Linked DNA regions of Homo sapiens. The protein of the gene in region 2 purifies or fractionates together with the protein of the main gene of each other region. This does not show direct contact. Each region holds a gene or a part of one and is shown on either strand. Other genes may lie near its edges. The genes, in order: EIF4G1, USP10, EIF4G3 and ANKRD28.

Evidence for each region.
Region 1: the proteins of USP10 (region 2) and EIF4G1 purify together in Homo sapiens (affinity purification with mass spectrometry; 4 studies listed by BioGRID, with this or other methods). This does not show direct contact.
Region 3: the proteins of USP10 (region 2) and EIF4G3 purify together in Homo sapiens (affinity purification with mass spectrometry; 2 studies listed by BioGRID and IntAct, with this or other methods). This does not show direct contact.
Region 4: the proteins of USP10 (region 2) and ANKRD28 purify together in Homo sapiens (co-immunoprecipitation; 3 studies listed by BioGRID and IntAct, with this or other methods). This does not show direct contact.

The regions. Positions count from the first base shown.
Region 1 is NC_000003.12:184,317,600-184,324,646, reverse strand, and holds part of EIF4G1 (eukaryotic translation initiation factor 4 gamma 1), read right to left. Parts: intron 6,931-7,047; coding exon 6,831-6,930; intron 4,959-6,830; coding exon 4,846-4,958; intron 4,385-4,845; exon of another isoform or gene 4,018-4,384; coding exon 3,925-4,017; intron 3,721-3,924; coding exon 3,654-3,720; intron 3,366-3,653; coding exon 2,544-3,365; intron 2,286-2,543; coding exon 2,197-2,285; intron 2,104-2,196; coding exon 1,917-2,103; intron 1,827-1,916; coding exon 1,693-1,826; intron 1,565-1,692; coding exon 1,406-1,564; intron 1,243-1,405; coding exon of another isoform or gene 1,240-1,242; coding exon 1,054-1,239; intron 868-1,053; coding exon 670-867; intron 447-669; coding exon 300-446; intron 1-299.
Region 2 is NC_000016.10:84,703,000-84,710,046, reverse strand, and holds part of USP10 (ubiquitin carboxyl-terminal hydrolase 10), read right to left. Parts: intron 5,308-7,047; exon of another isoform or gene 5,220-5,307; coding exon of another isoform or gene 5,187-5,219; intron 1-5,186. UniProt on the Homo sapiens protein: Hydrolase that can remove conjugated ubiquitin from target proteins such as p53/TP53, RPS2/us5, RPS3/us3, RPS10/eS10, BECN1, SNX3 and CFTR.
Region 3 is NC_000001.11:20,805,979-20,809,897, forward strand, and holds the end of EIF4G3 (eukaryotic translation initiation factor 4 gamma 3), read right to left. Parts: intron 1,523-3,919; coding exon 1,341-1,522; 3' UTR 501-1,340; downstream 1-500. UniProt on the Homo sapiens protein: Component of the protein complex eIF4F, which is involved in the recognition of the mRNA cap, ATP-dependent unwinding of 5'-terminal secondary structure and recruitment of mRNA to the ribosome. Functional homolog of EIF4G1.
Region 4 is NC_000003.12:15,787,960-15,795,006, forward strand, and holds part of ANKRD28 (serine/threonine-protein phosphatase 6 regulatory ankyrin repeat subunit A), read right to left. Parts: intron 1-7,047. UniProt on the Homo sapiens protein: Regulatory subunit of protein phosphatase 6 (PP6) that may be involved in the recognition of phosphoprotein substrates. Involved in the PP6-mediated dephosphorylation of NFKBIE opposing its degradation in response to TNF-alpha.

The DNA.
Region 1 (7,047 bases), on a different chromosome or scaffold from region 2:
CTATTAAAAATACAAAAAAATTAGCCAGGTATGGTGGCACATGCCTGTAATCCCAGCTACTTGGGAGGCTGAGGCAGGAGAATCGCTTGAACTCAGGAGGTGGAGGCTAGCCAAGATCACACCACTGCACTCCAGCCTGGGTGACAGAGCAAGACTGTCTCAAAAAGGAAAAAAAACGTCCTGAGCCAGAGAAATCCCCAAGACACCACTACCTCCATTCCAAATTCTACAGCTGAGTAGCATCTGGGTAAGGGAAGGAGGTAAGTGGTGAGTGGAATCGATAGTGGGTTTTCTCTCACCGTAGCAGCTTCATCCATCTCTTTTTGCTTCTTCTCAAAAACCTCATCATCATCTTTGTCTTTCTCAAACTCCTTCTGACATCGATTCAACAACAGCTTTCGGAAGTTCACAGTCACTGTTGGCTTTTCCGTAGTGGGCACTTTCAGCTGTAGGTCAGAGAGAATGTCACACTCAAGACTAGTCCTGGGCAGGGAAGGCCCTCCAAGAGCCTTTAACTACCTGACCCAGGAAGATCTCTGGCCCCAGCTCTGCCTCCTTCCAGCTGGAAGAGGCACAAGTTGGAGGGGAACCAAGAAGCTGGACTCAAGGAGTCTTGGGAATAGGAATGGGCAACCAGACCATTAGATTTAGAACCCACTGGAAACTAACCGCCATGAGGCAGCGGCACATGTTGGCATAGGCCACAGAGAAGTTGGGCTCTGAAATGGCCTTCTCAAAAATGAGGTCAATGACCCCTTTGAGGCGTTCCTCGGTGTCGATGGCCAGCTGCGTCACTTGCTTCATCAGCTGCTGGAACATCTGGGGTGTCAGTTTATTCAGGATGGAGCGCACCCTGCGGAATAGGTCCTGGAGGGAGAAGAGACAAGAGTTCCAGTGAGGGTCTCAGAACAGGCTGTTGGGAGGGACAGGAGAGGGTGGTGGGGACTTAGGCATGACAGATGCTAGTGATAAGGACAAAAAGAAGCAAAGAGGGCACAGATGGCAGACCTGGAGAAGAAATGGAGAGAGACCAAAAGCAGGACTTGCCAGTACCTGGGTTTTGCTGCCATCAGCATCTTCTTCCCCTCGATCCTTATCAGCCGCCGTCCGCTTGCTGCTGGGTTTCCAGGCTTTCTCTGCTTTGTTCAGTTTTATATCTTCGGTCATTAACACTGTGGCAATGATCTTGCGTGGTTCTTTTCGGGGTCCCTGCTGAGAGCGCCGGGGTCCCAGGCCAGCCTGCTAAGCAAGGGATGAAGACAAGAGGGGACATGGAACTAGTCAGCACAATATGTGACACCACTACTACACGCCTCCAGGGCAAACCCCTCCCCGCGGGCACTGAGACACGGAATCATCCACTCCCACTCCTTGCCCACCTGCCACTTTACCCAGCCCCACTCACCGGCCCACGGGGCAGCTCCCCACCTGGCCCACCCCTTGGGGGCCCACGGGTGCTAAGGGTTGTCCGGCCAAGGTTGGCAAAGGATGGAGTGAAGTCTGGGCCACAATTTATGCCTTGTAGTCTAGTGGGATCCAGTGGCCGCAGTGGTGTTTTATTGGCCTGCAAAGAGGACAGGAAAAGGTCTCAGAAGCAGGCTAGAGCGGTTGACTACTCTTTCAGGACCTCAGGCTCCTCCCCAATCCATCCAGCACAAACTTATCGTCCCCTCCCCAACTGAAGCCACTAACCTTGTCCAGCACCACGTCACTGATATGTGGCAATCCCTCTGGCTTCTGCATACTGGCAAAGATGAACTGAAAACCAAGCAGGAACTCACGGTCGTAACGTTTTTTCTCCTCTAGGTTTAGAGGCTTCCACTGATCTGCAAGGAAAACAGAATGAAGCAATCATACTGCCTCCTCTGGCCCTAATAAGAAAACTCAAGCCATTCTCAACCCTTTCTTCAGCATACCTGACTTATATTCATACTTCTGTTCCCCGGGCTGGATGTTCTCAGCATTGTGAATTTTGTCTTCCTTTGAGTCCCAGGTCTCATCTGCTTCCTCAGGACGTGGGGGCACACCACTGCCCTCAGACTCTGGGCCTGGATTGCTGCCTGCAGGAGGCTGATTTTCCACCTCTGGTACTGCCGGGTTCGCCTAGAACAACAGAACATCCAGTTTTGGTTGCAGAATGACCACTGCTCCATACCTCAACTTGGCCCTCTCCCCTCCCATTTTCTGCTCCCTTACCTCCTTGAAGGCATCCAGAAGGTCTCCAACAGCCTCCTTCTTATTTAGCTCCTTAATTTTCCGTCTCCTCTTTGGCACAGATACTGCCACTAATTAAAAATAAATAAATAAAAGCATGGATCTTTGCCAATAATTTAAGGAGTACCCTTAATCCCTGGGAAATAGAAAGCAGCCAAAGAACAGTATTTCCCCTTTGCATCACCCTTTTTAGGCTTAAAAGTCCTTAATCTAGTTCTTAGATTCCATTGCAGGGACCCAGAAACATGTCAAAAATGGGCGGTCATCAAGGAGGGCAAGGAACGATATCCCCTAGCCCGCCCTACCTCTACCGTCCAACCACACCTTACCTTGAGTGGCTGCTGCTGCCTCCAAATTCTGAGACAAGTTGGCTGGAATAGGGGTACTCTCTGGGGGGAGCAGTTCCTCTCCTCCTTTCTCACTCTCAGCTTCTCCTGCTTCTCCTGCTTCTCCTTCTTCCTCTTCTTCTTCTTCTTCCATTTCCTCCTCCTGAGCTGGGGAAGTAGCTGAAGGAGCCGTAGCTGGAGTAGCAGAGGGGATGGTGGGGGGCGCCATTGATGCTGTCACCTCCTTGGCCTGCTCCTCTGGCTCACTGACTGGGCTTAAGTCCACAGCTGGTGGCGAGGGGGCTCCGTTGAGCAGTTCCTCAGGTTGGGCAGTTGGAGCAATGGGCACAGGGGATTCGGAGGGGCAAGCTGGGGGAGGAGCAAGCTCTGGGCTTGACTCCACCTCTGGTTCCAGATCTTCAGATGGGACCATGCCATTAGGCTCATGAATTTCCACTGTGTGAGATGCCAAAGGGGTGGGAGCCTGGAGAGGACTGGAAGAAAACTCAGATTCTGGAACCGGTTTGCTAAGTGTCACTTCTACTTCCAGTATGGGTTCGGCGAGAGGAGTGGGTTCTGGAGAGAGGCGATATGGCTCCCCAGTTTCACGGGAGATGGGGGTTGATTCTTCTACAGACATTTGTATAGTTGTCATAGTGTCCCCAGGAATAGAGAGGACTGCGAGATTAGGCTCAGACCCCGGTTCCAAGACTGGGGATGGTGATGGGGTCGGAGAAGGCGACGAAGGCTGGGATTCTGAAGGGCTATGCTCTGGGCCAGGCAGCCCTGGCCGGTCAGCAATGATTGCTCCCTGTGACCGGTCATCTGCACCATAGGAAGGAAGAATGAGCAACTAAAGGCAAGTGCTTAACTGCTGTTGTTCCTCCCCATCCTCCAGCCCAGGCATTCCCAACTTAATAACCCCGCATCATCTTCTCCCCACCTAAGCTATACTTCCACTTTCATCCAAAACCCAATTCACCCTCAAAATCCCACAACCTGAAATCTAAGTCATCATTCTCTGGTACCCAGTTCAAGTCACTCCACCACCTCAGCATTTAACTGTTAACATTCCCTTTCCCCATAAAAGCTCCGTCCCACCGGCTTACTTACCTGGCCGGACAATGACAGCAACCTGGGGCGTCTCCCCATTAGCTTGAGGCTCCAGACCGCCTCCCGTCTGCAGGACACAAAGGGTTACCAAGTTTGCACTGAAGAGTCCCACAACCCTTCTTTACTAGAGCCATTTCTACTTTAGCTCTGCCTAGAAATCCAGGAAAGCAGGGAAATAAATCCCTTAGTTGAAAGAAAAGATCCAGGGACTTGGGAGTCCAGGGCAGAACAGACATCCCAGCCAGGGTATCACTCGAAAAGCAGACAGTACCTGGGGAGGGGTGGGTGTGGAGGCAGTGCGGGCCCCAGACATGATCTCCTCTGTGATATCCTTTCCTCCTTGGTTTGGATCTCGAATTCGGATCTGGGGAAAGAAAGCTATAAGATGAGTGGGAAGCAGGAAGAGCCCACCTCTCCACCCTGCCCCAATCTTAAGACTCTGGGCCAACTCCCCACCCCCCAGCGGGAAGCAGGTAGGTAGGTGCCAGAAACCCCTTGAGTTCCACTTTCAGCCCATCTGGCTGCTCTCGTAGTCCCTGCCCCAGCTCCCACCCTTAAGAGACCCTTGATCTCACAGAGCAGCCCTGTACATCACAATGCCCCTCCCTCCCTCATCCCTACCCCACCAGCAGTCCCCAAGTCAGTGGCTGCACACCCTGGGGCCCAGGACCCCCATCTAGAACCCAATCGGCTCACTTGTGGCTAGTGTGCCTGATCTCTGGGGGCAGGGCCCAGATCCAGTAGGTGGAGCCAGGGTGACTCAGCGGCTTCCCCAGCTCTGGCACCCTATTCTGGGCACCACGCCCAGGGCTTGAGGACTGAGCAGAGGCGGAGGCCTTGAGAGCTTCCAGGACTGGGGGGGCAGGGGGGAATGGGGGCTGGGGCCACAGAAAACAAACCATTTCCAAGGCAAGCCACTAGAAACCCAAAACCAAGCATAGTTCTTCCAACCCCCCAGCACCCAGGTCTCGCAGGAACTTCCTCGCTAGGCACTTCAGTCTTCCCATGACCTGCTTCTATGCTGAAATCTTAGCATCTTACAAAGAACCTGAGCCCTCCACAGACACCATTCTCTGCCCACTCTCAGCTCCTTCCTCCTCAAGTCACTGCTCTTTCCGGCACAATGTCCCAGCAGCACCTGACCTTGATTCTCCCCTTCCCAGATGTCCCGGAGCCCCTCACTGCTACTCACCGTCTTACGCTCCCTCTTGGGAGCAATCTGGGGTGGCTGGTTCATCAAAACTGGGGTGGGGGCCACGCCAGTGGGAAACTGCTGCACCCCTTGGGCTGGATAGTAGGCGCCAGCTTGGGGGAGGGGGGACGGAGAAGAATGGTGGTAGCGTCAGGGCCCAACCATATACTAATGCCTGCCTGACACCTCCCACCCCAAAACCTCTCACCACCCACAGCCGGCCCCTTGCCTTGCCCTGCCCTGCCCTCCTCCCCCAGGGAATTAGGTGTCTGTCAAAGCTGGGGAACCAGTCTGAACTGCGTTTACAAGAATTCCTAACACACACACACACACAAACACACACACACACACACACACACACACACACACACACACCCCTCGTAGGCAGGCACTCTTTCCTACCACACACCAGTGACCAGGAGGACTTATGTCTGTCCTTCCACCGTACAAGTTACTCTCGTGTGTGTACCCCACCCGCTATCAACATGTACACACATACTCTGAACCTGAAACAGAACCAGGTCTTTGGCTGGTAATGAGAGAAAGAGATCTGCCAACCCTGTTCCATTTAACTTGAGTCTAGTTCCTGTCTCCAGCCCTTTACAAAGGGGCAAAGAAACAAAGTAACATTATGAACTAGGCTCAAGATGAAGAAAAATTAATTCCTTAAAGCAAACTATCTCCAAAGTGGGTGAGTTCTTTTTTCCCCTTAATTTTTTTTTTTTTTTGAGATGGAGTCTCACTCTATTGCCCAGGCTGGAATACAGTGGCACAATCTTGGTTCACTGCAATCTCCACATCCCGGGTTCAAGCGATCCTCCTGCCTCAGCCTCCCGAATAGCTGGGATTACAAGAGTGCATCACCAGGCCTAATTTTTGTATTTTTAGTTGAGACAGGGCCAGGCGTGGTGGCTCACGCCTATAATCTCAGCACTTTGGGAGGCTGAGGCAGGTGGATCACTTGAGGCCAGGAGTTCGAGACCAGCCTGGTCAACATGATGAAACACCATCTCTACTAAAAACACAAAAATTAGCTGGGTGTGGTGGCACACGCCTGTAATCCCAGCTACTCGGGAGGCTGAGGCAGGAGAATCACTTGAACCCAAGAGGCGGAGGCTGCAGAGAGCCAAGACTGTGCGACTACATTCCAGCCTGGGTGACAGAGCGAGACTCCGTCTCAAAAAGAAAATTAAAATAATAACAATAAAATTTAGTAGAGACGGAGCTTCACTATGTTGGCCAGGCTGGTCTCGAACACCTGACCTCAAGTGATCCGCCTGTCTTGGCCTCCCAAAGTGCTGGGACTACAGGCGTGAGCCACCGTGCTCAGCCCCCCTCAAATTTTAAAATAGAGACAGGGTCTCACTAAGTTTCCCAGGCTGGTCTCAAACTCCTGGCCTTAAGCAGTCCTCCTGACTCCCAAAGTGCTGGGATTACAAGCAAGATCCGGGCACATTCTTTAATTTCATCCCTAAATTCCACTTGTTTTTGACAAGCACAAGTGTATTTGTTTAAATTTTGCATACATATAAACAAAAACATACATGTATGAGAGATTCATACTCAAAACTTTTCCTGATAGGTGATCAAAAAACTTGGAAGCCACTGCCATAAAGAACAGACTAATCCTTCCCTAGAACATAAATAAAAAATAGCTACAAAAACCTCCCAAATTTGCATTACATGGGCTCCCAACCATGGAAGAAGTGTCACAGGGAAAGCCTACTAATAGGCTCTCAGGCTGGTGCCTGATCCTACATTCCCTGATGTGGGAAAGACTCTTAACTCTCCTGGCAATAAAATCAAATTTTCTCCCCACAATCAACACCAGTTAAATATTAAGCACCAATCCCTACCACCTATTAACCTTATCATTTTTAGACCAGAAGCCAAGCCTGGGAAGGGTCTTCTGCTTTAGAAATCAGCAGATGAGTTTAGATGCTCCCTTGGGCTTGTTCTCACCTCTGACTCCCTCCCCTGCTTACCGTAGGTCCCAAATTCTGTAGGGCTTGCACCTGGATAGAAGCCTGGGGCTCCTGGCTGCACAGGGTACTGCTGTGTCGGGACAACGTATGTGGAACGCCCCTGGTGGGGAAGGGGGAGAGGGAGAGAAGGAGTTGAGGGAGCTATGAGTTCCATATCAGACTCCAAAAAGAACATAGGTCAAGACAAGACAAGCCAACTCTGGGCAATGACCAGAAG
Region 2 (7,047 bases):
CCGTCTACTTCGGTCTCCCAAAGTGCTGGGATTACAGGCGTGAGCCTCGCACCCGGCCTCAACCAGCTATCTTAACACAGAGTTGCTACCAACTTCACTCAGTCCTGAGCTTGGATTACCAAATTCTTTCTCTCTCCTCTCCAGACTCCCGGCTAACCACTTCACCCTACACACCATTTCAGCCACAAATTTATCTGTTTCCCAAACAGGCTGCAGGCTTTGAGACAGTTCCTCTGCACAGTCTCCTCCACATGCCCTTGTCCGTGTGCTTCTCTGCCTGAAAAACTCCAGCTCAAATGTCACCGTTCTACAAGAGACGTCTTCCCAGCTTTGCCCAACATTCAGTCCCACTCTCCTCCTTTTTTGAAACACCTTATACCTAACTCCTGAGTCACGCAACTTCTCTCCACCTCCACGGCACCCTCCGAGTCAAAAGTCCAAGGACCCTGCCCTAAATGATCTCCTTATGGCCACTGCGACCCCGTGAGTCTATTCTTCACTGGGCAGAGTATGATCCCAAAAGGCAATGTGATTATGAGGTTCCATGGTCAAATGTTGTACCACCCCCTCTTCCACACTTTTCTCAGAATAAAGACAGTAACATCTAACAAAGGCTGCAAGGTTGGATGGTGCGTCTGTCCCTCCCCTCCAGCTCTGTGCCCAAGACACACAACTCCTTGCTGAGTTCTCCAAAGTGCTCCAAATTCCCTCCAGCCAAAGGTCCACCACACATGCTGTCCCCACTGTCTCATGCTGTAAACACGTCACTTCCACGGGAACGGTTCTCTGACTTCAGATTGTGTTCCCTTCCTTTGGGAAACATCTCTCAGTTTGGAGTGACGTGTACGTAACTGTGATTATCTGATTAGCAAGCTGTCTTCCTCAATGGACCCATAAACTCCTCCGCGAGAGAAACAATGCCTGTTTTCGCTCATCACTCCCTCCTCAGTGCCTGGTACACAGCAGCCACTCGGTAACTATTTGCTGAATGAATGAACAAACGAATGAATGAATGTTCTTGACTATGTTGTTCACACTTGTGTTACAGGAATTACCACCCTAAAACTGGATGCACCCAGCCATTAGCCTGCTTCTCTCCCTCACTACCCAGCGAACCTCTAAAGCACAGGAATTCTCTCTTCAGCTCTATACTCCTAACGTCCGGCCACCAAAATCTGTGAACAATCACAAAAGATATAAAGTCCTTCATATGTGGTTCTGAAAAAAGTGTCTAGTATTCTACAAATTAATTCTAAACAAAATAGTAAACCACACTTGGAAGCCCCGATTTTGCATTCTATTACAAGTCAGAAGTACTTAAATGTGGTTATCTCTCAGGAGTGGGACCTGAGTTGGGAAGTGTTTTGTTTTTTGCCATTGCAGTACTCTGATGAAACAAAGTGACAGAAGACAAAAACATGATTTTGAAGAAGATGGAGAAAAATTCAGGTGAATTACCCAGTTTCTCATTATTCCCTAGGGCAGGTGACTTACCAATCTCCAACTAATAAAAAGTTTGTCCTCTCATAAATCTAGTGCAAAGGCAATGGATGGACAAGAATCTGAATGTGAATCAGACCTCCTTTTTTGTTTTTTGAGATGGAGTTTCACTCTTTCGTCCAGGCTGGAGTGAAGTGGCGTGATCTTGTCTCACAGCAACCTCTGCCCCCACGGGTTCAAGCTATTCTCCTGCCTCAGCCTTCGGAGCAGCTGGGATTAAAGGTGCCCGCCACCACACTCGGCTAATTTTTGTATTTTTAGCAGAGATGAGGTTTTACCATGTTGGCCAGGATGGTCTCAAACTCCTGACCTCAGGTGATCCACCCACCTCGACCTCCCAAAGTGCTGGGATTACACGCGTGAGCCACCACGCCCAGCCAGACCTCTTTTTACACTATGAACACCGGACAGCATGACTACTACTAAGGGGGTGGAAGTCTTCAAAATATTTCTTATCTTTTCTTTTTTGACGTAAGAGTCTCGCTCTGTCACCCAAGCTGAAGTGCAGTGGCACAATCTCGACTCACTACAATGTCCACCTCCCAGGTTCAAGCGATCCTCCCACCTCAACCTCCCAAGTAGGTGGGACTACAGGAGAGCACCACCATGCCCAGTGAATTTTTGTATTTTTGTAGAGAAAGAGTTTTGCTACGTTGCCCAGGCTGGTCCCAAACTCCTGAGCTTGAGTGATTCGCCTGCCTCAGCCTCCCAAAGTGCTGGGATTACAGGCGTGAGTCACTCACTGCACCTGGCCCAAAATATTTCTTAAGAAAAAAAAAAATTGTTTGGACAACATGTTATAAGTTGTGGCAGCACTTCCACAATCCCCTGCACACTGGATCCTGATAAGTCACTTCAATCTCCAGAATATCTGCTTCATTCCCTGGCAAAATTAGGTAAACCTAAGAAAACTGACTTCAGTGGATGTTTTCAATAATTTTGAAAACAAGGTTTGCTCAATAAAGTTCAGTGACTAGATACAACAGACCATATTATGAAACAACGGAACAACAACAACAAAATACTCCAGTGGAAAAAAGCATAGAAGACACACACCAAACTGACGATTAAGGATCAGAGAGGAAGGGAATGACTTCTACTTTTCACTTTAAATACGTCTGTGCTGTTTTCGTGTCTTAAAAATAGCATGTCTTTATACTAGAAAATAAAATAAACGACTTTATTAAAATGTACCCCACACAAACTTTAGTGAATAGTAACATATTATAGTAACAAATTTTGTAATTAGTAACATTAAAGTTTCTAAATGCACATTTCATTCATTCATTCTGTAAATGTTTATGGAGGAACTACTAAGGGGAAGTCACAGTGTGAAAGATTATGCCTTCATCAGTCTCTTCCAGAAAACCAGTCTGGCAAAGTAGAAAAAGCAAAGGATTTAGAAGTCAAAACACCTGCTTTTAAAAGGTCCTGATGGCCAGCAGCCATTTGACCTCAAGCCACAACCTCTCTGGGTCTTATCTTACTCATCTGTAAAATGGTTATAATAATACAGGACAGAGTTGCTGTAAAGGCTCAAACAAGCTAAGGCACTTTCTAAACTATGCAGTTTATAGAGTTTATAGGCTTCAAATGATGACTACTACAATGCTTAGTATCTCGTAATAAATATGTTTCTCCTTCTCCAATGATCAGATCTACCCAGAAAGCCTACTTCAGGTCTTGAATAAATATATATATAGTCTTGGCCCGGCGCGGTGGCTCACGCCTGTAATCCCAGCACTCTGGGAGGCCGAGGTGGGCAGATCCCGAGGTCAGGAGATGGAGACCATCCTGGCTAACACCGTGAAACCCCGTCTCTACTAAAAATACAAAAAATTAGCTGGGCGTGGTGGCGCACACCTGTATTCCCAGCTACTCCGGAGGCTGAGGCAGGAGAATGGCGTGAACCCGGGAGGCGGAGCTTGCAGTGAGCCGAGATTGCGCCACTGCACTCCAGCCTGGGTGACAGAGGAAGACTTCGTCTCAAAAAATATATATATATAAAAATATATATAAATATAAAAATATAAATAAATATAAATACATATACAAATAAATACATATAAATATATATATAGTCTTTGCAGCCACGTAAGGGAAATTATTACTTAAAATACCAAGAGAAGGGGTATATAGGAACTCTTTGTACTTTTCTCTCAATTTTGCTGTGAACCTAAAACTGCTCTAAAAAATGAAGTATAAAAAAATTGTTTTAATGTATCAGAAGTTTTTTATATTGGGCAGGAATCTCGAAAACCTCTAGAATTGAACTTCATTTTCAAATCCTCTTCTATTTTTAACCAAAACTTCAACATGTCCTATCAAAAGTAAAAAGACTGATACTTGCAGAATGAATAGGGAGGCTAGGCGCGGTGGCTCACACCTGTAATCCCAGTACTTTAGGAAGCTGAAGCAGAAGGGATCCCTTGAGGCCAGGAGTTCAAGACCAGCCTGGGAAACACAGCAAATCCCTGTCTCTACAAAACAACAACAAATTGTTTTTTTCAAAGAATGAGTAGGGATGCTGGGGGCAGTGGCTCATGCCTGTAATCCCAGCACTTTGGGAGGCCAAGGTAGGTGGATCACCTGAGGTGAGGAGTTCCACACCAGCCTGACTAACATGGTGAAACCCCGTTTCTACTAAAAATACAAAAAAATTAGCTGGGCGTGGTAGCAGGCACCTGTAATCCCAGCTACTTGAGAGACTGAGGCAGGAGAATCGCTTGAATCTGGGAGGTAGAGGCTGCAGTGAACCCAGATCGCACCACTGCATTCCAGCCTGGGCAACAGAGCAAGACTGTCTCAAAAAAAAAAAAAAAAAAAAAAAAGCAAGCAAGGGCATGATTATGTCTGTACTCAACATACACAAATGGAAAGGAGCACATCTTCATAAAACAAAGACAAATGGGAAAACAAAAATCTAGCACCATCAGATCAGGAAGAAAGAAAGAGGGAAAGGGACGGAGGGAGGAGTCAGCTAGATGTAAAAATCAGGTTCAAAAGGCACAGGAGTGGCTGGGTGTGGTGGCTCACGCCTATAATCCCAGCACTTTGGGAGGCCGAGGTGGGCGGATCGTGAGGTCAGGAGATGGAGACCATCCTGGCTAACATGGTGAAACCCAGTCTCTACTAAAAATACAAACAATTAGCTGGGCATGGTGGCGGGTGCCTGTAGTCCCAGCTACTCAGGAGGCTGAGGCAGGAGAATCACTTGAACCCGGGAGGCAGAAGTTGCAGTGAGACAAGATACCGCCAATGCACTCCAGCCTGGGCGACAGAGCGAGACTCCGTCTCAAAAAAAAAAACAAACAAAAAAAACAAGGCACAGGAGTGGGGACACTCACCTTTTTATTAGGGATACTCTCACTTCAAAATGGACTGGTTTTGAGACTCCTGAGCCATAGAGTACAGGCTTAAGGAGATGTCCCTCCAGCTAATACCAGAAAAATAAACTGAGAATGGATCCGAAGAATGACAACCGATAAGGCTGTACACACAAGCCCAACGGGGAGGAGACTGAGGACTCTTAGGAGCAGCCACCATTACAGCGCAGACGGTAGCAGGTGCTGGGCCCGCACTCCACATGCACATTCTCCTAACAATTCTCATGTGAGCCCAAAAGGGAAAGTCGAGGAATTCAGGCTGTAACAGCCCCAAACCACATTTCTATCTCAACACCTTACCTGCCCTATTCCAGGAGAGGGCAACCAGGGCATGATGTTTCAAGACGGGACAGAATGGCAGTGCTGGTAGAGCTTCTGGGTTCTCAAGTCATCTGATGAAAATGGGATCATGGCCCAGGAGCTTTCAAATAGCCAGAAAATAGCCAGTTCAGAAAAAATCTAGGATCTGAAGATTCTACATCGAGGTTTATGATAAATTCTACATTTTCTGATCCTTGAAACAAATACTATACACATACCCCAAGGGCTACCTTTATTTTCCTACACTAATTCTTCATCCAGCCTGTATTGACAGAAATGGTCAAAGAAAGACCTTTTGGGAGAACACTTCAATAAACAGGAAAACTGCAGTCCAAGCACATACAAGTCTCTGGAAATGAACATCTACACTGCTGAAGTGGCACTAAAGTGACAAATGACAGTAATCCAATGGCCCAAGGCCAGCAAATTCCATTGCAAACAGATTTATCTGTTTTGTGCGATGGTGATTCTTGCATGTGTGGCAGTAAATAGAAAAGTAACAGCCTAATTACAAATTCAAAAGCAAGCTCTTCCCACTACGTTTCATATTTTGGTATAGTACCAGTAATAAGTGTCCTCAGCAACCACGTTTAATGTGCCACCTGAATACCAGGAACCATTAACAGGAAGTACCTACATGTCTGAAATTATATCTTTAAAAACAAACAAACAAACAAAAAACCGAAACAAAAACCCTGATGTAACTAATTCAATTGGAGATGATACCACTTTTCTCAATTACTTGAATGTTATATTCTGAGCACAGCACAGTGCAACGTGCCGCTTAGGCTTGGCATTAAACAGCAATCATTAAGCTTCGTAATCCTTTTCTCCTTTAAGTTTTCCTATGTGAATCACTGCTTAAATCCTATCAGTTCCACGTAACAGAACACTGGAATACATGTCCTAACTTTTGCTTTAGTGAGGAATTTAGAATGTGGTAGGCCCGCTTAGTATTCACTGGAATTTCAGTGCGCTGTGCTCTCAATGAGATGGGCTCAAGAGCATGATGGTGAGGTCCTGGTACGGCGCGGCTGCTCAGGCCATCTGTACAAACCACTAAGGCGACCACTGGCTCACAAACTTCTCAGGCCATCTGTACAAACCACTAAGGTGACCACTGGCTCACAAACTTAAAACATCTACTCTTAGGACATGTTTAAATAGCTTGCTGTCACTATGCAAAGGAAAACTGTTATCTCCAAATGCCCTGTCAACATTTCAAACAATTGTATTTACTTCAGCTGCTCATTACTTGAGATTCTAATAAAAATGTATCTCTTTTAAGAATTAACACTAATCCAGCTGTTGGCTAGAAACAGATATTCAGCAATACAGTAACATTCAGCCATATGCTAGAGGGGGAATCCAAGACTTTCCATCATGTAAAATGTGGAGGATCTGCTATTACAAGCTAAAAAAGAGACTGGGGTGAGTCTATGCAGAGACAAGGACAGAAGCCAACTGCATGACATTCAAATTGGGTGTAGGAAGCATTATTGTGGAGATTTCACTATAAATGACATCAATAATCACAAATATTTTTTCGGTGTAAGGCAAAACTAATAGCTTCAAATTAATTACCCCAAATAATTTAACCGGTCCCCTCAGTGACAAGGATATTCACTTGGACCTACACTTCAACTGTTAAAGTTCATTTATTTGTCTTTGCTAAAATGCTGAGTTACCGGTCTCAAAATGTTTCCAAATTCTTCACTATTACACTTCAATACAGGTAACAGGGATCAACCAACACTTTCTAATATTTGGAAATAAGGTTATTAACCTATAAACTTTTTTATTTATTTTGAGATGGAGTTTCGCTCTTTTTTTTTTTTTT
Region 3 (3,919 bases), on a different chromosome or scaffold from region 2:
AGCATAATATAGCTTTTGGTTTTATTCATTCTTTAGAGGACATCTTTGGGTTTCTTAAGCATTGCAGGCAATTGATGGAAGATTTTAAAATCAGTGGTAGTGGCAGTCTCAAAGTGAATTATTGTCCTGAGTCCTGATACACAGAGTGGAAAACTTAGTTATCTAAAGGACTGCCCTTGAGGCCTACTGTCCTGAATGCATTTTTAGTTAGTGTTGGAAACAAGTTTCACTGGACTCCCAGTGGGGCATTCCCACCCAAGCACAAGTGCCCTCCTTACCCACAAAGTAGCTTGCCTTTTCAGTGAGTAGAGACATATACATACATACATGTGCATGCACATACGTGCGCATACACGCACATACACACACTCTCTCACTCTCTCTCGTTTTATCTCTCTCCCCTCAGGAGTGATTTGAATTAGACAATAAATAGCCAGACAGCACCCCCAGGAATGGGCACACATGCAGCAGCTGTCCAAAGGAGAAGTCACTTTACTTTCTTTTAAACTTGCAATGTTTGTCTTTATTTTGTTCTTTATATTTTCAAAGTGAAAAGAAATAGTACTGAGTCAATTTCTTTTTGTTTTTTTAAATATTTGTTCTATGTATTTACAAGCCTTAAAGTTGCTCTAAAGATTTCAAGAGTATTAAGAGTACTTTTCTCAGGGTAGCACTTTTTTTTTTTTAAACAATTCTTGGAGTTCTGTGGTCCACAGCATTTCCTTCTGTTTCAATGTTATGTATGTTTTGATTACTATTGTGATTTTTTAAATTTTCTGAAGCAAGCTGAGAGGCAGGCAGAAAGATTTGATGCCAAAAAAAAAAAAATCTTTCTTACCTTGTTCACCCCAAACTTTCTCAAATCTGGACTAAATGCTATACCTTAAAACAAACATGAGGTGCATCTTGAAGGGGAGGGAAATTTATTTCTCTGCTTTTCTATTATACAAGTTGTTTACAGAAACTGCAAATTAAAAAATTACACTGGCATTTGCAGTCCTTAAAATAAATTAAAAGTTCTCAACTTTTTTTTTTTTTGCTAAACATTTTTTTAAGTATGAGTCCTTGTTTAAAAAGAAAAGATTAAAACAGAAAATATTTTCTATAAATAATACATGTATTTTGGTTTTAGTGCTCCCGCCCTAAGGTTTGAAGTTTACTTTTATCCAGTACCTTTTTCCTCCATGATCACCTTTTTTTCTCTTTCCCCTCTCCCACTCGTGCACACGTGGGGGTTTCTGCGAGAATTGGCCTTGCTGCACTGTGATTGGCGAAGACGTGAAACTTTTTAAAAAAATACTTAAATTGTTTCTTTTGTTTCATTTTGTGTATTTGAAGTTTTAGTTATCCTCAGACTCCTCTTCTGCTTCCCGCAGCCACGTGAAGAATGCCGTGACAGATTTCAGAGCCACGCCCTTCCCATTCTGCTCTGCAGGGTCCTTGCTGCTCTCCCATTTGTAGAAGGCATCCTCGGAGATCACCTCCTCGTCATATAGACAATCAAAAAACATCCGCAGCAAATCTGCAAGGAGGTGAAAATAAACTATAAGCTTTGGGACACTGTAGTTATGAGGAAAAGAATATATTTCAAAATAATGAATGACTGAATAAATGTGCATTAATTCCCCCAGAAAAAAGCAATAATGACAATTCACCATACTTGCTCTTGACAGTATAAACAGCCCAACAACTTGTTTAAAGAAGAGGAAAAAAAGATTGAAGCAGTCTAAATTCTTTTTTATTCCTATTATTTTGTACAATTTGAACTTTTTTTCTGTTTTTTTTTTTTTTTTTTTTTTTTTTGAGAGACAATCTTGTTCTGTCCCCAGGCTGGAGTGCAGTGGTGCGATCTTGGCTCACTGCAACCTCTACCTCCTGGGTTTAAGCAATTTTCCTGCCTCAGCCTCCTAAGTACCTGGGATTATAGGCGCCTGCCTGGGTTTAAGCAATTTTTCCTGCCTCAGCCTCTCAAGTACCTGGGATTACAGGCGCCTGCCTGGGTTGAAGCAATTTTCCTGCCTCAGCCTCCCAAGTACCTGGGATTACAGGCGCCGGCCACCACAGTCAGCTAATTTTTGTATTTTAAGTAGAGAAGGGATTTCACCATGTTGGCCAGGCTGGTCTCGAACTCCTGACCTCAGGTGATCCGCTCATCTTGGCCTCCCAAAGTGCTGGGATTACAGGCGTGAGCCACCGTGCCCGGCCCAATCTGAACTATCTTCTGATACCAGTGAAGCTGTTTCATATCATGTTTATCTCAATCTAAACCCTATAAAATTTAAATACGAGTAGTTTTTTACTTTCTTTTTACTATTTTCTGCGCTGCAAGTTTACTGTATTATTTTTACAAAATTTGGGGGAAGGGAGAAAGGCAGGATATGCTTTTTATTCCTTGTAATGTTGTTTTAAAAATGAAGAGGTGGCCGGGCGCGGTGGCTCACACCTTTAATCCTAGCACTTTGGGAGGCCGAGACAGGCGGATCACGAGGTCAGGAGATCGAGACCATCCTGGCTAACACAGTGAAACCCCGTCTCTACTAAACATACAAAAAATTAGCCGGGCATGGTGGCGGGTGCCTGTAGTCTCAGCTACTAGGGAGGCTGAGACAGGAGAATGGCGTGAACCCGGCAGGCGGAGCTTGCAGTGAGCTGAGATTGCATCACTGCACTCCAGCCTGGGTGACAGAGCGAGAGTCCGTCTCAAAAAAGAACAAGAGGTGATCATTCACATGGAAAACATGAGTAAAAGCTATCTCATCTGGATTTTATCCAGTGAAACTACACCTGTTATTTACTGTTTTAAACGTCCAAACTATCCGTGTGATTTTAATTCTCGGTTTTACTCTCATAGTAAAACTGAGAATTATAGTTATCATATATAATAAGTTATTAGCTTATAGTTATTATAGTCAGCTCTCCGATCATTTATATTAATGGAGGGAGGCAGTGGAATAAACAATAAATGCTAATCAATATTAGGTTTATCATGAGTCGTATTAACTTTTTTTTTTTTAAATGGAGTTTTGCTCTTTTTGCCCAGGCTGGAGTGCAGTGGCATGATCTCGGCTCATTGCAACCACCGCCTCATGGGTTCAAGTGATTCTCCTGCCTCAGCCTCCCAAGTAGCTGGGATTACAGGCATGCGCCACCACGCCCAGCTAATTTTGTAGTTTTAGTAGAGACGGGGTTTCACCATGTTGGCCAGGCTGGTCTCAAACTCCTGACCTCGGGTGATCTGCATGCCTCGGCCTTTTTTTAAAAAGACTTATCTTTGTAATTATATTAGTTAAGCTAATATTATCAAATTATCTGATTCATGGTAGATTGTCTCTTCAGTTACACTATAAGGATAATTTGCTTTCATCTTTTCCTTTATCTCCAAGAGCGATTCAGGACTAGGAAAGAAGGAATTTTACAAAAGCGAAAATAAGGAAGTACCAAAGAACTACTTGAGTGCTCTCTCTAATAGCTATGTACTGCCCGCTTTAACAAATACCAACTGAATTTTCAAGATGTAATAAAAATCATTAGTTAACACCAAGTATCACTAAGACTTAAGTGTACAGGTTACTTTGTTTCATTAGCCAAGAATTAATCATAACCCTTAACTAAAAACTATTCTGAAACTCCTTAGTAAATATAGCATGGTAAATACACTACACTTAGGGTCTTTGTTGGGTGTCTAAAGATTCTAGAGTATCATCCTCAACATCATTAACCATTTTCATGCCCTAGACCTGTGTTGTCCAATATGGAAGCTATTAGTCAAACATGGTTATTTAAATTTAAAGTCAATAATTCAGTTCCTAAGTCACAACAGACATATTTAAGTATAGAATTGCCACATGTGGCTCATGATTACCATACTCAATGGTATGGATATATACTACCATCACTGTGGAAAGTTTTATTAGGCCTG
Region 4 (7,047 bases), on a different chromosome or scaffold from region 2:
CAAGGTAACACTTTCAAAAATATTAAGTTATATGCTACATCTAAGATCTACCGCTTAGCTCTTAAATCAGCTCTTTAGAGTTTAAAAAGGGTTGCTCATAATCTCAGCCTTCCTATGTTTAAACACTAAAAACAGTTTGGCTGGATCCTTGTGTAATACTACTTTGACATTTTTATCTACCAAAAAAATATGGCACTAAAGAAGGCTTGTGTCTTATTTGTCTCATCACTTGTTTGCAATGATAAAATGTAACAGCACTTGGTATTATAAAAATTAGGATTATCTTTGTATCACAGCTTAAAAGGCAGGAGTTCATAGGGCACAGACATAACTATTTTAGAGAGAAACATCCATTTTCCAACTATTATTGCTTTATAGTACTATTTGGCAGAAGAAAAAATATTTCTCTCTCAACAATATGCTTTATTTCTCCAGTTACTATTAAGTCGGACATGGGTTCAAATTCCCATTCTGCTATACTGATTCTGCAGACGGTTAATTTTTGTGAATTTTAGTAGAAATGTTAACCTGTCAATTTTATAAAACTGTTGTACAAGTTAAATTGAGTAATACAAAATGGCTTATGCCTATGTCTGTCTCAAAAGTAAAGTTCTACAATTAACACCAATTTTAATACTCTTAATAAAAAATTAATATTTGTAGAAAATAATTTTCTTATAAAGAAGAATCAAAGTTTTCCTCTAAAATGTGGTATCATTAATATTTCAGATTAACCTATTTGGGTTCTACAACATGGCATTAAGTTCTAGTAAATCTTAGGGAAAGGCATTTATTATTTTGGTCACGAAAATCTAGAAACACAAATGAAAGCTTTTGGGCAAAAGCAGGAGGTCACTGAAAGTCATTTAGAATTTTTAGAGTGTCCTGAATTTGGAGTGGGGAAAGACTGTGAAGATCATTAATGTAACCCTACACATTTACCCCCCCAAAAAAAAAGAAGAGTGAGGGCTGAAGTTAACAGGATTCACTCAACTTGTATAGCCAATAAGGCTAAGAAGATATGAAAATCTAGGTCTTTCAACTTAGAGTCCAACTGTTCTTCACATTCTATGTACCACTCTGCTTTTAAAACATTTTGATTGCATTTCACCCTTTTATGGTTTACAGTGCTTCTTCCACATCCAGGTGACTTATTTTTCCAAAATTTTGCTATTTCAACAGTTTTTAGGCAACTAATAACCGTCCAGTTAGGTTCCTATCCAAACAACTATTTTCCCTTTCTTCCTTCCTATGAAAATCCTGATTTACTCCTGAATATGGCAATATATTCAATAAAGTCCACTGAAGCCCTATTCCTGCTCCAGGGGATGAACCAGGTGATGAACCAAGACTGATCTAGCAAAAAGCGAACCCCATTCTGCTTTGCTGGTGAATTAGTTTAGAGTAGTCTTGTAACCAATGGAACCTTAGGAAGGAATTTTGTGGGGACTTTCGAAGAGAGGTTTTCTCCTTTTTTTAAAAAAAAAAGAAAAGAAAAGAAAAGAAAATGTACAGGAGAGTCTCTTTTCCAATGTCTTTGGTTGTCTCCCATAAGTACATGATACAGCAGTCATCTCTTTATTATGAGAAAGCCAAGAGTTTCACAGAGAAGCTCACCCAGAGCTCTGACATTGCTGTTTTAAACAACCCCAAATTACCATGCTCTAGATTAAATTATTACACAAGCAAAAAACCTCTATTTATTCAGGTAGTCAATTATTATATCTGTGGCCAAAATCTGCCAAATATAAAACTCTAGTATTTGCTAGTGAAACTATGTTACATGACTTCTAGAAGACTTCATGTCATACCAAATAATATGAATATATAATTTTTTAAAATTAAAGTTTGTTAAAAATCTATTAGGGAAACAAAAAGTTGACTTAAAAAAATACAATTGACAAATCTTTAGCCAGACTAAGAAAAAAAGAGAAGAAGATCCAAATAAAATCAGAAATGAAAAAGGAGACATTACAACTTACACAGAAATTACGACTTACACAGACATTATGACTTATGCAGAAATCCAAAGGCTTGTTAGTGGTTACTGTAAGCAACTATATATGCTGATAAACTGGAAAATATAGAAGAAATGGACACATTCCTAGACATATACAACCTACCAAGATTGAAACAAGAGGAAATCCAAAACCAGAACAGACCAGTAACAAGTAATGAGATCAAAGCTGTAATAAAAAGTCTTCTAGTAATGAAAAGGCCAGGACATAATGGCTTCACTGCTGAATTCTACCAAACATTTAAAGAAGAACTAATACCAATCCTACTCAAAATATTCTAAAAAATAGAGGAGGGAATACTTCCAAATTCATTCAAGGCCAGTATTACCCTGATACCAAAACCAGACAAAGACACATCAAAAAAAGAAAACTACAGGCCAGTATCGCTGATGAGTATTAATGCAGAAATCCTCAACAAAATACTAGCACAACTGAATTCAACAATATATTAGAAAGATCATTCATCATGATCAAGTGGGATTTATCTGTGGGATGCAAGGATGGTTCAAAACACAAAATCAATTAACATGATATATCATATCAAAAAAATAAAGAATAACCATATGATCATTTCAACTGATGTTGAAAAAACATTTGATTAAAAAATTCAATATCCCTTCATGATAAAAACCCTCAAAAAACTGGATATGGAAGGAACATATCTCAACATAATAAAAGCCATATATGACAGACCCACAGCTAGTATCATGCTGAATGAGGAAAAACTGAAAATCTTTCCTCTAAGACCTGCAACACAAGGATGCCCACTGTCACCACTGTTATTTAACATAGTACTGGAAGTCCTATCTAGCTCAATCAGACAAGAGAAAGATATCAAAGGCATACAAATTGGGAAGGAAGAAGTCAAATTATACCTGTTTGTTGGTGATATAATCTTATATTTGGAAAAACCTAAACATTCCACAAGAAAACTAGAACTGATAAATTCAGTAAAGTTCCAGAATACAAAATCAATGTACAAACATCACTAGCATTTCTATATGCCAACAGTGAACAATGTGAAAAAGAAACTAAAAAGTAATCCTGTTTACAATAGCCATACATAAAATTAAATACTTAGGAATTAACCAAAGAAGTAAAAGATCTCTATAATGGAAACAATAAAACACGAATGAAGAAAATTGAAGAGGACACCAAAAAATGGAAAAATATTCCATGTTCATGGATTGGGATGAATCAACACTGTTAAAATGTCCTGGCAATCTATAGATTCAATGCAATCCCAATCAAAATACCAATGGAATTCTTCACAGGAATAGAAAAAATACTAAAATTTATATGGAACCAGAAAAGACCCAGAATAGCCAAAGCCACCCTAAGCAAAAAGAACAAAACTGGTGGAATCCCATTATCTAACTTCAAATTATGCTACAGACCTATCGTAACCAAAACAGCATGGTACTGTCACAAAAACAGACACGTGTACCAATAGAACAGAACAGAGAACCCAAAACCAAATCCAAACACCTACAGCAAACTCATTTTTGACAAAGGTGCCAAGAACATACACTGGGAAAAGACAAGTCTCTTTAATAAATGGTGCTGGGAAACTGGATAAACACATGCAAAATCATGAAACCAGACCCCTATCTCTTGCCATATACAAAATTCAAATCAAAATGCATTAAATACTTCAAACTGAATCTAATACAAGAAAACACTGGGGAAAATCTCCAGGACATTAGTCTGAGCAAATATTTCTTGAGCAATAGCCCACAAGCACAGGCAACCAAAGCAAACATGGACAAATGGGATCACATCAAGTTAAAAAGCTTCTGCACAGCAAAGGAAGTAATCAACAAAGTGAAGAGACAACCCACAGAACGAGAGAAAACATTTGCAAACTACCCCTCTGACAGGGGACTAATAACCAGAATATAAGGAGCTCAAACAACTCTACAGGAAAAAACCTAATAATCTGATAAAAAATGGGCAAAAGATCTGAATAGACATTCCTCAAAAGAAGACACACAAATGGTGAAAAGGTTCTCAACATCACTAATCATCAGATATCCAAAACTCAATGAGATATCATCTTGTCCCAGTTAAAATGCCTTTTATCCAAAAGTCAGGCAGTAACAAATGCTGGTGAGGATGTAAAGAAAAGGGAACCCTTGTTCACCATTGGTGGGAATGTACAACCACTACGGAGAACAGTTTGGAGGTCCCCCAAAAAACTAAAAATAGAGCTACCATATGATCGAGCAATTCCACTGCTGGGTATATATCCAAAATAAAGGAAATCAGTGTATCGAAGAGATCTGCACTCCTATGTTTGTTGCAGCACTGTTTACAATAGCTAACATTTGGAGGCAACCTAAGTGTCCATCAACAGATGAATGGATAATGAAAATGTGGTACATACACACAATGGAGTACTCGTCAGCCATAAAAAAACAGACCCAGTCATTTGCAACAACAGGGATAGAATTGGAGATCATTATGTTAACCGAAATAAGGCAGGCACAGAAAAACAAACATCACATGTTCTCACTTACTTGTGGGATCTGAACATCAAATCAACTGAATTCATGGACATAACAGAAGGATGGTTACCAGAGGCTGGGAAGGGTAATGGGGGGTTGAGTGGGAGGTGGGGATGGTTAATGGGTACAAAAAAATAGAATAAGACCTACTATTTGATAGCACAATAGGGTGACTATAGTCAATAATAACTTAATTGTATATTTTAAAATAACTTAAATAATGTAATTGGAATGTTTGTAACTCAAAGGATAAATGCTTGAGGGGATGAATACCTAATTCTTCATGATATGATTATTTCACATTACATGCCTGTACCAAAACATCCCATGTACCCCATAAATATAGACACCTATTATGTACCCACAAATTTTTTTTAAAACCCACTAAAATAAGAAGAAAAATCTATTAGGTGTGTTACTAAGAAACGTGCTGTTTAGTGGTCTACAATATTCAAAACCTCAGGGTGTGACTAAAGAAACTCATCTAAAATTATACAATGACTATTTAATGGTAGAGAAATAAATCTGAACTTATATCCATTCTAAAAATGAATAAAAACAACTTCAAAAAACTTAAGAGAAACCTGAGTTTCAAAAAGTCCAACGTTATTCTCCAAATACTTATTTAAATAAATTTACTTTGGAAAAACACGACTGTCACACTGACATAAAGCTTAAAAATATTTTATTACCTATTAAAAGTCAGTGCATTTAACACCCATTGCCTTTTAAAACCCCATATGATTCCTTATCAGACAAAATCAGATGATATTTACCATCTTAAATTCAAATAATGGCCAAAAAGTTAACAAATCTTGACTTTAAGGCAACACTCTCAACTACTAAGAAAGGGTCACGAGAGAAAAGGCCTAAAAGCAATCATAAAAGTTGTTGTCAAAAACCTTTGTATCACTGAAGACAATTGTCAAAGAGTTACTCTCAAGAAAGGCCTACTGATGAGTGAGCTGATGCTCTCAATGACTCTGAATTTTTTTTTAATTTAGGATAAATTGATTAAATATAACATAAAAGTAATGTCAGCTACAATAAACTTTGTAATGATGGAGAAATTAGCCCTGGTAAATGGAATTATAGTTCAAACTTTCTAATCAAGGTAGTATTTGTCAGTACTATTAAAATAAAACCAAAATAACAAGAAAACCTTAGGAGTTAAATGGAAAACATGTTTTCCACCTTTTCATGCGTCTATACCCCTTGAGCTATTTTCTAAGAAACGCATACTCTTCAGTATACCCTGGGTAAAGTAGCCAGACACTTCATTTAAAACAAATAAATCATGGCCCGGCACAGTGCCTCACGCCTGTAATCCCAGCACTTTGGGAGGCCAAGGCGGGCCGATCACCTGAGATCAGGAGTTTGAGACCAGCCTGGCCAACATGGTGAATGAAACCCTGTCTCTACTAAAAACACAAAAATTAATCGGGCGTGGTGGCAGGTGCCTGTAATCCCAGCTACTTGGGAGGTTGAGGCAGGAGAATCGCTTGAACCCGGGAGGCAGAGGTTGCAGTGAGCGGAGATCATGCCACTACACTCCAGCCTGGGCAACAGAGCCAGACTCTGTCTCTAAATAAATACATACATACATACATACATAAATCCTGAATTAGGTGCATGTTTCCAACTAAATATAAACTTGAAGGCAATTCACTTAGAAAAAATTTTAAAAAATATATAATGATAGCATTCTGTTCATTACCCAATGTTAAAATTAACAACAGTTTTAGCCAATGATTCAAATCTATTCAGATAATTCATTATTTTAAAAATAAGGTAAAACTTTTTTGTATCTACCTAACATTAAGTGGTCACAGCAGTATTATATTAAAAAAAAAAGGAGGAAAGATGAGAGTTAAAAATGAGCTTGCAATGGGTGCTTTCTTAAAACCACAATCATTTCTAGGTCATCTGTTTTGGTGTTGCCACAGCGACTTTGTGAATCATATGACTTTTCACCCCCTCCATAACTCAGGGGTACATTTGTTTCTGGTAAAAATATATACATTAGTGGATGTAATTTTGTTAGAGTACGTAATGTACTTTCAGCCACAACTTAGTAAACTAAATACTGGCCACTGAAAAAACATAACAGAGAGAGAAAATTATCCATATATCCACCTTTCTAAAACTGTCCATCATGTCAGCACTGAATATACTACTGTATCGTTAAGTCTGAAAACTTTTCCAACAATGACTTTACTGAAAACCTAATCTGACAAAAATTAATCAAGCACCATTGTAAAACACTCACCATGATTATTTACAAAAAGCAAATCTGATCTTATATTTAGATATACACTTACAAGAATCCTCATTTGAAATGCACAGTTAAGTATTTAATGGTGAAGTATCATGATTTCTGCAACTTACTACATATATATGTAAAAGTTGTATATTAATAAATACAGAAAGCAAATGTGGCAAAATGTTATCAATGCCAAAAGTAAGTGAAAGGTATATGGGTAGTCAGCATGTTTTTTTAACTTCCCTATGTTTGAAAAATT